Homo sapiens: one gene and its partners. The protein of the gene in region 1 purifies or fractionates together with the protein of each later gene. This does not show direct contact. Each region holds a gene or a part of one and is shown in the gene's direction. Other genes may lie near its edges.

Evidence for each region.
Region 2: the proteins of PPM1L (region 1) and TTC27 purify together in Homo sapiens (co-immunoprecipitation; one large-scale study listed by IntAct). This does not show direct contact.
Region 3: the proteins of PPM1L (region 1) and TDRD10 purify together in Homo sapiens (affinity purification with mass spectrometry; one large-scale study listed by BioGRID and IntAct). This does not show direct contact.

What each region holds. Positions count from the first base shown.
Region 1 is NC_000003.12:160,759,231-160,762,730, forward strand, and holds part of PPM1L (protein phosphatase 1L), read left to right. Parts: intron 1-3,500. UniProt on the Homo sapiens protein: Acts as a suppressor of the SAPK signaling pathways by associating with and dephosphorylating MAP3K7/TAK1 and MAP3K5, and by attenuating the association between MAP3K7/TAK1 and MAP2K4 or MAP2K6.
Region 2 is NC_000002.12:32,634,478-32,638,208, forward strand, and holds part of TTC27 (tetratricopeptide repeat protein 27), read left to right. Parts: intron 1-777; exon of another isoform or gene 778-854; intron 855-3,731.
Region 3 is NC_000001.11:154,522,693-154,526,423, forward strand, and holds part of TDRD10 (tudor domain-containing protein 10), read left to right. Parts: intron 1-3,731.

The sequences.
Region 1 (3,500 bases):
TAGCTCTAGAATGGTGCAGACGATAAATGAGGAGTTTAATTTTATTTCTAATAACTCACACTAGTAAGATAGACCATCAAAAACTAGGGCCCGTCTGTAATTGTAGTACTCTTTAGATGCAGAGGAGACATTACCTTGTATATCCTTGTACATCCATTTCATCTGTGTATATCAATTTCATCCCTCACCCTTTTTTTTTCTTTTAAGCTGAGATGCTGATAGCTGGAGAAGTTGTGACCTTCCTAAGGCTATGTGGCTAGTTCAAGGCCTTCAGTTTGTTGATCTCTATATGAAACCACTGGACAAATTGGCTTGAATATTTACCTAGATAGATGGTGCCCTGGGGATACAAGGGTGAATGAAATATAACCCCTATCCTCAAAAAGTTTCAGTCTAGTGAGAGAGATAGACCTCTACACCAAAAATTATAGTCATGGTGCGCTTAGAGTGTTACGGTGACACAGAGGAGGGACATTTAAATCAGACTGGTAGGTAGGAAGGCCCAGGAAAAAACGCCTTGAAGGTATTGTTTACTTCAAGATTAGCAGCATAGGTTTTGACTTGAGATCTGGCTTTGAATCTGTGCTCTGCTTTATTCTAGCTGCGACATTGGACAAGTTGCTGAAACAGCTTTATCTGGGAGTTTATTATCTAAAAAATAGGGATAATAATGCCTGTAAGGTGCACCTTCATCAGTTGTATTATACCCTGTCTAGAGAAGTACCTAAAGGAGAGAAGGATATGGAAGAGGAAAGGCCAAGAAGACCAAGAAGTCTGCAGTGCTGGGGCAGCACTATTCAAGGGAGAGAGACTCTTCCTGTGTGAGCCACAACTTTTATCTCTATGAAGATGTATGTAGTGCAGGGATAATTTATTAGCTATCCCCCAAACTCTCTATATCTCAAGGTTCTAACTTTCAGTGGACTCCTGATTACTAATTCAGGATTTCAGTTATCCAGATATTTGAGAAAAGTGTGTCATGGCTTTAGGTGTAAATTTTCTTACTAGTCAAAAGGAATATTCTCTATGATTAATTAAGAAATTGGTATTCTGATTTGTACTTCAGCCTCTTATGATTTGGGTTACCATGAGTTAGTTCTCTTGAGCATATTTAACTGTGAATTCTTCGGCAAAGATATGTCTCTGGACTTTTTATGCTGAGGACCAGACTCTCTAGGGCTGTGGCTTCTTCTAGATGGATGAGATTTTAAAGAGCCTTATCTCAGTGGTCCTACAGGCCAGCTTCCTCCCTTGATTCTAACCATGATACTGTGTGTGGATGGTTCACAGTGTGTGTATGTGTCTAAAGGTATGGCAGTGATTGTCTTCTTATATAACAAGATTAAAACAACAAAAAGGTAAAAAGGAGCTCGTTATATAAATTGATGTAGAAAGATTATTTTAAGATAAAAATGATTTTTGTCTAGGAAAATCATTGTTTTTGTGCTTACTTGTAATTTTTATCTACAGGCAAAAGGTGGTTTTTTTTTTGTTTTTTTTTTTTAATACCATCTAGAAGAAATATCACCAAATCCTTTGGCACCTCTATCAATGTTCATGGCTGAAGCCTAGCTAGAAGAATAGATTGTTATGTGCTCCATATGTTCATGAGCACTACTCTATTAAAGGTCTTATGTATCTTGATAATTGACACACAGCTTGGCCAGTGGTTAAAGCCCAGAGTTCCACATTTTGCATGAGGGAGAAGCCATACTTCAAGCGCTTGCCAGGGACTGCAGTCTTGAGGCTCAGCACTTCTCAGAAGCTCAGAAAATAAACTCCTTATGGAGGGTTGCCTGAAGAATATATATATAGTCTTATTCTTTAGATCAGTGGTTCTTAACTTTTCTTGAGTCATGCTGCTCTTTGAGAATGTTATGAAACTACAGACATATTCCCCAGAAAAAAGGACATGCATATCAAATTTTCTTTGTAGTTTCAGAGACAAGTGGATGCATGAAGCCTCTGAATTTCAGATTAGTCTAGATAGAATAAAATCTGTTTTTGATGCATCTAGCTCTGCAAGGAACTGTGTATCTGAACCCCTTGCTTGGCCCTCCTGCTTTCCTCTCCATCATTTGCTTTTATTGAATTGTTTGCTGTCATTTGCCTGTGAGGGTTGTTTGGAGGAATAGTCTCCTTAGCTCTGAGAAATAACTGCAAGAATGTTGTTGAGGAAATCATTTATTATATTATATAGTGTCATTTTAATGAGGACCAAGGGAGAAATAGTACTCTATTACCTATTTATCTTAAGGATGCTGAATTATGTAACTGATTGGGCCATCCTGGGTTTGTTGGCTGCTACAAGTATTAAGAGCCAAACGCCTGACCTACCTCTAGCAAATGTGCAGACTTTTATGGAATACATTCATCTGGTACATGAACCTCACTCCTAGGACAGTTTATCTTTCCTACACTCAATTTTCCTTTATCCCATTTGTATTAGCCCGTTTTCATGCTGCTGATAAAGACATACCCAAGGCTGGGAAATTTACAAAAGAAAGAGGTTTAATGGACTTATAGTTCCACGTGGCTGGGGAAGCCTCACAGTCATGGCTGAAGGTGAAAGGTGCATCTCACATGGTGGCAGACCGGAGAAGAAGAGAGCTTGTGGAGGGAAACTTCCCCTTATATAATTATCAGATCTTGTGAGACTTATTCACTATCATGAGAACAGTATGAGAATGACCTGCCCCAATGTTTCAAATTACCTCTCACTGGGTCCCTCCCACAATATTTGTGAATTCAAGATGAGATTTGGGTGGGGACACAGCCAAACCATATCACCATTTTTCTCTTCTCTTAGATATGTCATTTTAGCTTGTATTATATGTATTTATGTAAGTTTCATTGACTCCTTCTGAAATAAGATACACTTCTGAATAAATAAATTATGACTGGCACAGTGAATGATCTGCTTTTCAGACATTATAGCTACTGTTAGTAAATGTTCGGCTTTCACATTATGATGTATAAGAGGCCTAGGGATTTAGTATGGACAAATGCCTTATGGTTTAAGAGAAGATTCTGATTATTTTGGTTTAAAATGGCACATTAAAGTTTCTGCAAAAAATTTTTTTTTCAATGAAACCCTCCTTCCTATGCCTGTGCTTAAAGACCTTTTTGTATGGGAATGTAGGAACCTGACTGCTGACCTTGCTGCGTCTTCTGAACAGGTTGTTAAGAAATTCAGTTCAATTAAGCCAACATTTTCTGTATAGTTTGGCACCTGTGAAAAGCAGTGTTATGTTCTATGTGATGTCTAAAGATGATTTGGTGCATTCTGTGTCCTCAGGGAGCATTCTGTCTACTTGGAGAGATGAGCTTTTTTTAAAAAAAATAGCAGAGTTACAAGATGCCTGCCACCTACAAGTGTGTGATGGCTTGACTGAAGGAGCTTGGGAAATTTTGGATAATTTTGAAGAGGAACTGACATTTAATTGTATCCTAGCATTTCTGTAGACAGCGATTGGGTGGAGAAAGGAGGGGAAGATGAT
Region 2 (3,731 bases), on another chromosome or scaffold:
GGAGTTTTGCCATGTTGCCCAGGCTGGTCTGAAACTCCTGGGCTCAAGTGGTCTGCCTGCCTCAGCCTCCCAAAGTGCTAGGATTATAGGTGTGAGCGCTGTACATAAAGATCTTTAATGGCAAAGCAGCAAATCTGGAAATCTGTTTAATTTTATTTCAGGTAAGTTTTTAACTAATTAATTAATTAATTTTTTTTGAGACAGAGTCTTGCTCTGTCACCCAGGCTGGAGTACAATGGCGCGATCTCAGCTCACTGCAACCTCTGCCCCATGGGTTCAAGCAATTCTTCTGCTTCAGCCTCCCTAGTAGCTGGGATTACAGGCGTGTGCTACCACACTTGGCTAATTTTTGTATTTTTACTAGATGTGGGGTTTCTCCATGTTGGCCAGGCTGGTCCCAAACTCCTGACCTTAAGTGATCCTCCCACCTCAGCCTCCCAAAGTGCTGGGTTTACAGGCGTGAGCCACCATTCCCGGCTTGCAGGTAAGTTTTGATACTGTACTTAAGAATGGCTCCCAGGAGTGGTTTGCTCCCAGGGGTGGCTTTAAATTACAAATACTTTATTAAAGTTTCTGGCACAGCATTGCTTCATGGTGATTATTATCCATTGTGAAGATAATATTATCGATCTGTGCCAGTGTGTCGCCAATAGAGCTTGCAGTTTGAGTTCCTCAGGAATCTTGAGCTCCTATATAGAGGGTCTGGCTAGTATGAGATGATCTACAAAAGAAGTATGGTTTAAATCAAAGTAAGAACTTTGATTTATCCAGCCACTTTGGTGATTTTGAACGTAGCTATCCACCACTCAGCCTGGAAAAAGCTGAGTGATTGATAGCTATGTTCAAAATCACCAAATTGTATCCAGAACTCGTGCAGCAAAACAGACCTAGTGTTACCTGGTTTCTCAGAATTAGGTGTAGCAAGTAGGCCGGGCACAGTGGCTCATGCCTGTAATCCCAGCACTTTGGAAGGCCAAGGCGGGCGGTTCACGAGGTCAGGAGTTCAAGACCAGCCTGATCAACATGGTGAAACTCCGTCTTACTAAAAATACAAAAATTAGCCGGGTGTGGTGGTGCACGCTTGTAATCCCAGCTACTCAGGAGGCTGAGGCAGGACAATTGCTTGAACCCGGGAGGCGGAGGTTGCAGTGAGCCAAGATCACGCCACTGCACTCCAGCCTGGGTGACAGAGTGAGACTCCATTTCAAAAAAAGAAAAAAGAAAAAGAATTGGGTGTAGCAAGTAAATGTGGAATAGAGTTATTAGAGATATGTGTTAATAATTTGATGGGGGGGTAGAAAGAGAAGAAGTGCAAAAACAAGCATAAAGTGAAAACCACAATAATTAACTCTTTGCATATCAGCTTAGTGAGTCACTATATATACTTCATTAGAGTAATTTTAATCCATAATGCTGATCCTAATTATAACTGAAAGGTTAAAAGATGTTTTGTGTCTTATGTCTATGAAGGGAATTTATAATTTATATTCTACAGAGGTTTTCATCCAAAATGGGAGTAAAAAAACCCCAAACCCTAAATGATTGTAGCAGTTAAAGAGATAAGCTTCAGTTATCTAGAAATGTACTTAGGAAACATCTCATTCCCTCTCTTATTATGTATGAATCAGTTTCTGGCTTCTATGGCCCTATAGTATAGATTAGAAATCCACCAAACAGCCAAAGCCATAAATATCTCCTGAACACTGATGTGTGGTTTGAATGGTACTTAATTCGCATTTCTTTTTTTTTGTTTTGAGACGGAGTCTCACTCTGTCGCCCAGGCTGGAGTGCAGTGGTGCGATCTCGGCTCACTGCAGTCTCTGCCTCCCGGGTTCAAATGATTCTCCCACCTCAGCCTCCCAAGCAGCTGGGACTACAGGTGCTCACCACCACGCCCGGCTAATTTTTGTATTTTTAGTAGAGACGGGGTTTCACCATGTTGGCCAGGGTGGTCTCAAACTCCTGACCTCAGGTGATCCACCCGCCTCGGCCTCCCAAAGTGTTAGGATTATGGTGTGAGCCACTGCGCCTGGCCTTAATTCACATTTCTTGTGCCAATTTGGTCCTTACAGATTTGAGGTAATCTATAGGTGAAAAGACTGAAGCTCAGAGTGGTAAAAGAATCTTGTCAGAGATCTGTAGCTGGGGCATTGGAATCCACATTTTCTGGTTCCAAATCCAGTACTCTTCTATACTAGTGTAGAAGCACCTGTAAATTCAGGTAGCAAATCAAAACAATATGGAAATGAGTTTCATGAGAAGTTCAGACCATAAGAAATATTGCCATTAACAAAGAGATTTGTGGAAGCTGGATTTTGTCAAAGAAGACCTTTTAGTTGGAAGTGGACCTTGAGCTAGAACCTGAAGGATGGTTAGAAAATGGATAGAGAAGAGGAAAATATCCATTCTAGGTGCAGTCATATGAGCAGGAATTTAGAGGAGAGGACAGCATAGTGTTTGTGGGAAAAGGATGCTTTGAACTTGCCTCTTTTAGCAGTGAAAAATCACTTGATGGAGGTCATTTGGAGTTGTAGGAAACTTTGACTAAGTCTTTGATTTTAACTTTTTTATTGGAACTACTGCCAACACTTAAAAGAGCATATGAAATGTATACAATTTAAATAATAAATCTCCTTTGTACTCACAACCTAGCTTGAGTGTCACAGGTAATGCTCTCCAGATAGTATACCATGTGCTGTCTCCCTGTATAATTTTTATTTGTTGCTATGTTAAATTACTTGTTTGTTCTTTATATTTAGGGATTCATGTAGAAGATAATGACCTGAAATTTGTGGTAGAACAGGCAGACATATTTCTTGTCTCAGAGTGATTAGGAGAAGGATTCTTTTTCTTTTTCTTTCTTTTTTTTTTTCAGACGGAGTCTCACTGTGTTGCCCAGGCTGGAGTGCAGTGGCGCAATCTCAGCTCACTGCAACCTCCGCCTCCCGGGTTCAAGTGATTCTCCTGCCTCAGCCTCCTGAGTAGCTGGGACTACAGGCGCCCGCCACCGTGCCTGGCTAATTTTTGTATTTTTTAATAGAGACGGGGTTTCACCTTATTGGCCAGGCTGCTCTCAAGCTCTTGACCTTATGATCTGCCTGCCTCAGCCTCCCAAAGTGCTGAGATTCCAGGTGTGAGCCACCGGGCCTGGCCAGGATTCTCTTTCTTAAAGACATTCCTTATTATCTTCTTGTGCTTTACCAGTTTGGCTTGGGCTTTAGGAAATCAGCTTGTTATATCTACTTGAATTTACAACATGATCCGATGAGGCTGCAGGTCTAGTTTGGGCACTTTAGGCAGGTTCTTCTGAGTTCTCAAGTCAGTATATTCACTGTACATTCAGTACCTCCAGTTGGGGTTCTCACAGAATACCTCATTTCCTCATCATGTCCAAGACTGAACTCATGATGAAGGTCTTCTCTTTTTGTGTCTGTATTTCAGTTACACACGCCACCATGGTGTAGTGCCAGTCAGAAGGCTAAAAGTCATCCTGGCCATGTCCTTGAGGCTCTCCAAATGCTTAGCATAGCCCTAGCCCTTCCTGAGGGGCAGGAAGAGGTAGAGAGATCTGTTTCCAGTTCCCAAACCAATGTTCTTTCTACCAGCGTGGGCTGGTTTGGGAATTGATTTGGGAATTGGAAACATGGGCTTCACTTAATTTTTATGGATCTGTTTCCTCACCTCTAAAATTGAGGCAGTTGTAAAAACTTGATAATATTTCATTAATTATT
Region 3 (3,731 bases), on another chromosome or scaffold:
ACTCTTTCTCTTCCTTTCTCTCTTAAGCCCTCTTTGAAAGGGCAGACTGTCAGACTATACTGCTTAGGAACCTTCCTGGCAGCAGTTGTCTGCTCTTCTCTGTGTTATGCCCTTCACTGAAAACTTCAGCTTCTGGCTCATTATCTTTCTGTCTTATTATCATGCAAATTTAGCATCCATGTGGATGATTCGACTAAGAGTCCAGTCACTTACTTCCTGGACCATTGTATCTTTTTTTTTTGAGACAGGGTCTCATTCTGTTGCCCAGGCTGGAGTGCAGTGGAGTTATCTCAGCTCACTGCAACCTCTGCCTCCTGGGTTCAAGGGATTCTCCCACCTCAGCTGGGACTACAGGTGTGAACCACCATGCCTGGCTAATTTTTATATTTTTTCGATAGAGACAGGGTTTCACCACGTTGACCAGGCTGATCTCGAACTCCTGACCTCAAATGATCCGTCCACCTCAGCCTCCCAAAGTGCTGGGATTACAGGCATGAGCCACTGCACCCCACCTGGATTGTTGTGTCTTCCTAATGATTTTTTCTTCCACTTGGTCACAGTTTCTCATCCCCCTAGCTGTATTTCAGACCTTGTGATTGCTGTAACCATTTCAAGCATCCCACTCTGCGCTGTCCCCCAGTCTTTGCAGCTCTCTTACTCTGGAAGAATGGTTCTCAAGCTTTAACAAGCATCAGAATCAACAAAAGGGTTTGTGAACACAGTTTTCTGAGCCCTAGCCCCAGCGATTCTGACTCAGTACATGTAGGGTAGGGCCTGGGAATTAGCACAAGCTTCAGGTGGTGCTGATGCTCCTGGCCCTGGGACCACATTTTAGTAGCAAGGCTCTACAGCCTCAGTCCAACAGTTGATGCATTGGCTCACGTAGGCACACAAAGTCTGCTGACCCCACCATTTCTTCATTATTCAATATTCTCTTTGTTCTCTCATTTCCCTCTTAGCCTAGATTCTATAGTCAATAACTACCTTAGTTCAAACATCTTTAACTCCATTGCCCTTTTCTCACTAGGTTATAGCTTGCAGAACACTAATCCTAGTTGGACCCAGCCCTCTGCCTGTTCTGAACTCACCCTCTGAGCCCCTGAAGACATTCACACAACCTTGCTAACTGGTCTCAGTATATGTGCATGGTCACAGGCTTTCCCACTCTTCCAAACTGACCTGTTTTGGAATTCTCTGATCTTTTCTCCTCCTATGTCCAATCTGCTCTTAAGCCCATCTAATGAATGTTCTATTTTAGATATTTTTCAACTTCCATTTTATTCTTTTTTCCCATTTCTCTGCTGGACTTTTTCATCTTTTCACCTATTTTGTCTCTTTTTTAAGATTAACATTTTTATAATAGTTATTATAAAATCATTTTCTGCTAATTCCAACATTTGAGTCATTTGTGGATCTGCTTCTGTTGACATTTATCCCTTGATTATGGGTAAAATTTTCAGGCCCCTTTACAAATAGTTTTCTGTTTTTTCCTGAGACAGGGTGTTGCTTTGTTACCCAGGCTGGAGTGCAGTGGCTCAGTCATAGCTCACTGCAACCTCCACCTCTTGGGCTCAAGCCATCCTCCCACCTTAGCCTCCCTAGTAGCTGGGACTACAGGCATGCACCACTATGCCTGACTAATTTTTGTATTTTTTGTAGAAATGGGGTTTCGCCATGTTGCCCAGGCTGGTCTCGAACTCCTGGGCTTAAGTGATCTGCCCACCTTGGCCTCTCAAAGTGCTGGGATTATAGCCATGAGCTGAGCCACTGCACCCAGCCTATAGTAATTTTTTATTGTATGTTGGATATTATGGATGCTATATCATGGAGACTTCTATTACTGTCCTCTAAATGGTGTTGAAATTTTTCTAGCAAAGATTAAATTACTAGCAGATCTTTTATCCTATTAAGGGTTTTTGTGTGTGTGTCATAGTTAGGATTGGAATGTTCCATTGTGAGTCTTTTTCTTGGGTAACACCATTTTTCCTAAGACTTGGCTTTTGTAGGGTCTCAGGTGAGTGCTCCGGGTGCTTGCCAAGGTCTGTCCCCCTTGCTGGGTTGGAACTCCATTGTCTCCAGCACTGTGAGACCTCTGGCATCTGTGTCTCTCTCAGAGCCCTCTCCCCCACCTTCACAGCGACTGTTCTCTTTAAGGCCTCCCGGTACTTGTCCCACACCACGGACAGCTTAGGCCTCAACCAAGGACCTGAGGCAGACACCTAGATTCCTTGGACTTCTGTGTGGCTCCTTCCTCTCTGGTCCTCTGTCCCCAAATTCCTGTCACCTAAACTCTGTTGCTGCCCAATGAGACTGCCACTTTCTGCTTGGGCTCTGTTTCCCTTTGCTGTGGTTTGGGAAAATGCCCCCAGGCAGAAGGTCAGGGTGAATGTGGTGCTCACATGCTTTCCTTTGCTCAGGAAACAGCCCTCTGCCATTCACTCTCATTAGTCCTGTGCTGGAAATGGTGAGTTCCTGTATTTTGTCTAGTTTTAGAGTTGTTTGGGGTGAGAGTTAAGTTGTGTCATGCCAGAACCAGATACTGGGAAAGAGAATCATGGCTCTCACCTTTTTTTCTCTTGGGATAAAGATGATTTCCCAGTATTCCCACTGCTTTTAAATTAGAAATAAGTACACAAAAGCTGAACATAAAATCCCCATAAATGTGGACATTTAAAAGCATTCCTATGTAAACAACACATGGGTCAAAGAAGAATTTATAAAGAAACTTAAAAACACTTAGAACTGAATAATGAGGAAAATACTACCCCTGAAAAGTTTTGGGATATAGTGAAGGCAATATTTAGAGGTTCATCCAATCTTAGATGAGCAAAGAAGAAAGGTTGAATATTAATGAGCTAAGAGTTGATTGAAGAAGTAGGTAACAACATTTTAAAATCCAAATAGGAAGTAGACATTAATGGCCAGGCACGGTGGCTAACACCTGTAATCCCAGCTCTTTAGAAGGCCAAGGTGGGCAGATAATCTGAGGTCAGGAGTTCAAGACCAGCCTAGCCAACATGGCGAAACCCCATCTCTACTAAAAAATACAAAAATTAGCTGGGCATGGTGGTGGGTGCCTGTAATCCCAGCTACTTGGGAGGCTGAGGCAGGGAGAATTGCTTGAACCCCGGAGGCGGAGGTTACAGTGAGCTGAGATTGTGCCACTGCACTCCAGCCTGGGCAACAGAGCAAGATTCCGTCTCAAAAAAAAAAAAAAAAAAAAAAAAGAGGCTGGGCGTGGTGGCTCACGCCGGTAATCCTAGCACTTTGGGAGGCTGAGGCAGGTGGATCACAAGGTCAGGAGTTTGAGACCACCCTGGCCAATATGGTGAAACCCCATCTCTAATAAAAAAAATACAAAAATTAGCCAGGCGTGGTGGCGTGCACCTGTAGTCCCAGCTACTCGGGAGGCTGAGGCAGGAAAATTGCTTGAACCTGGGAGGTGGAGGTTGCAGTGAGCCAAGATTGTGCCACTGCACTCTGGCCTGGTGACAGAGTGAGACTTCATCTCAAAAAAAAAAAAAAAAGAAACTTGACATTATTGAAATAAAAAAAAAATCTAGCCAGGCCTACAGGCACTTTGGCAGGCTGAGGTGGTAGGATCACTGGAGCCTGGGAGGTGTAGTGAGTTATGATAATGCCACTTCACTCCAGCCTGGGCAACAGAGTGAGACCCTTTCTCTAAAAACAAACAAGCAAACAAAACCCAAAACAACTTTCACAGATTTTTT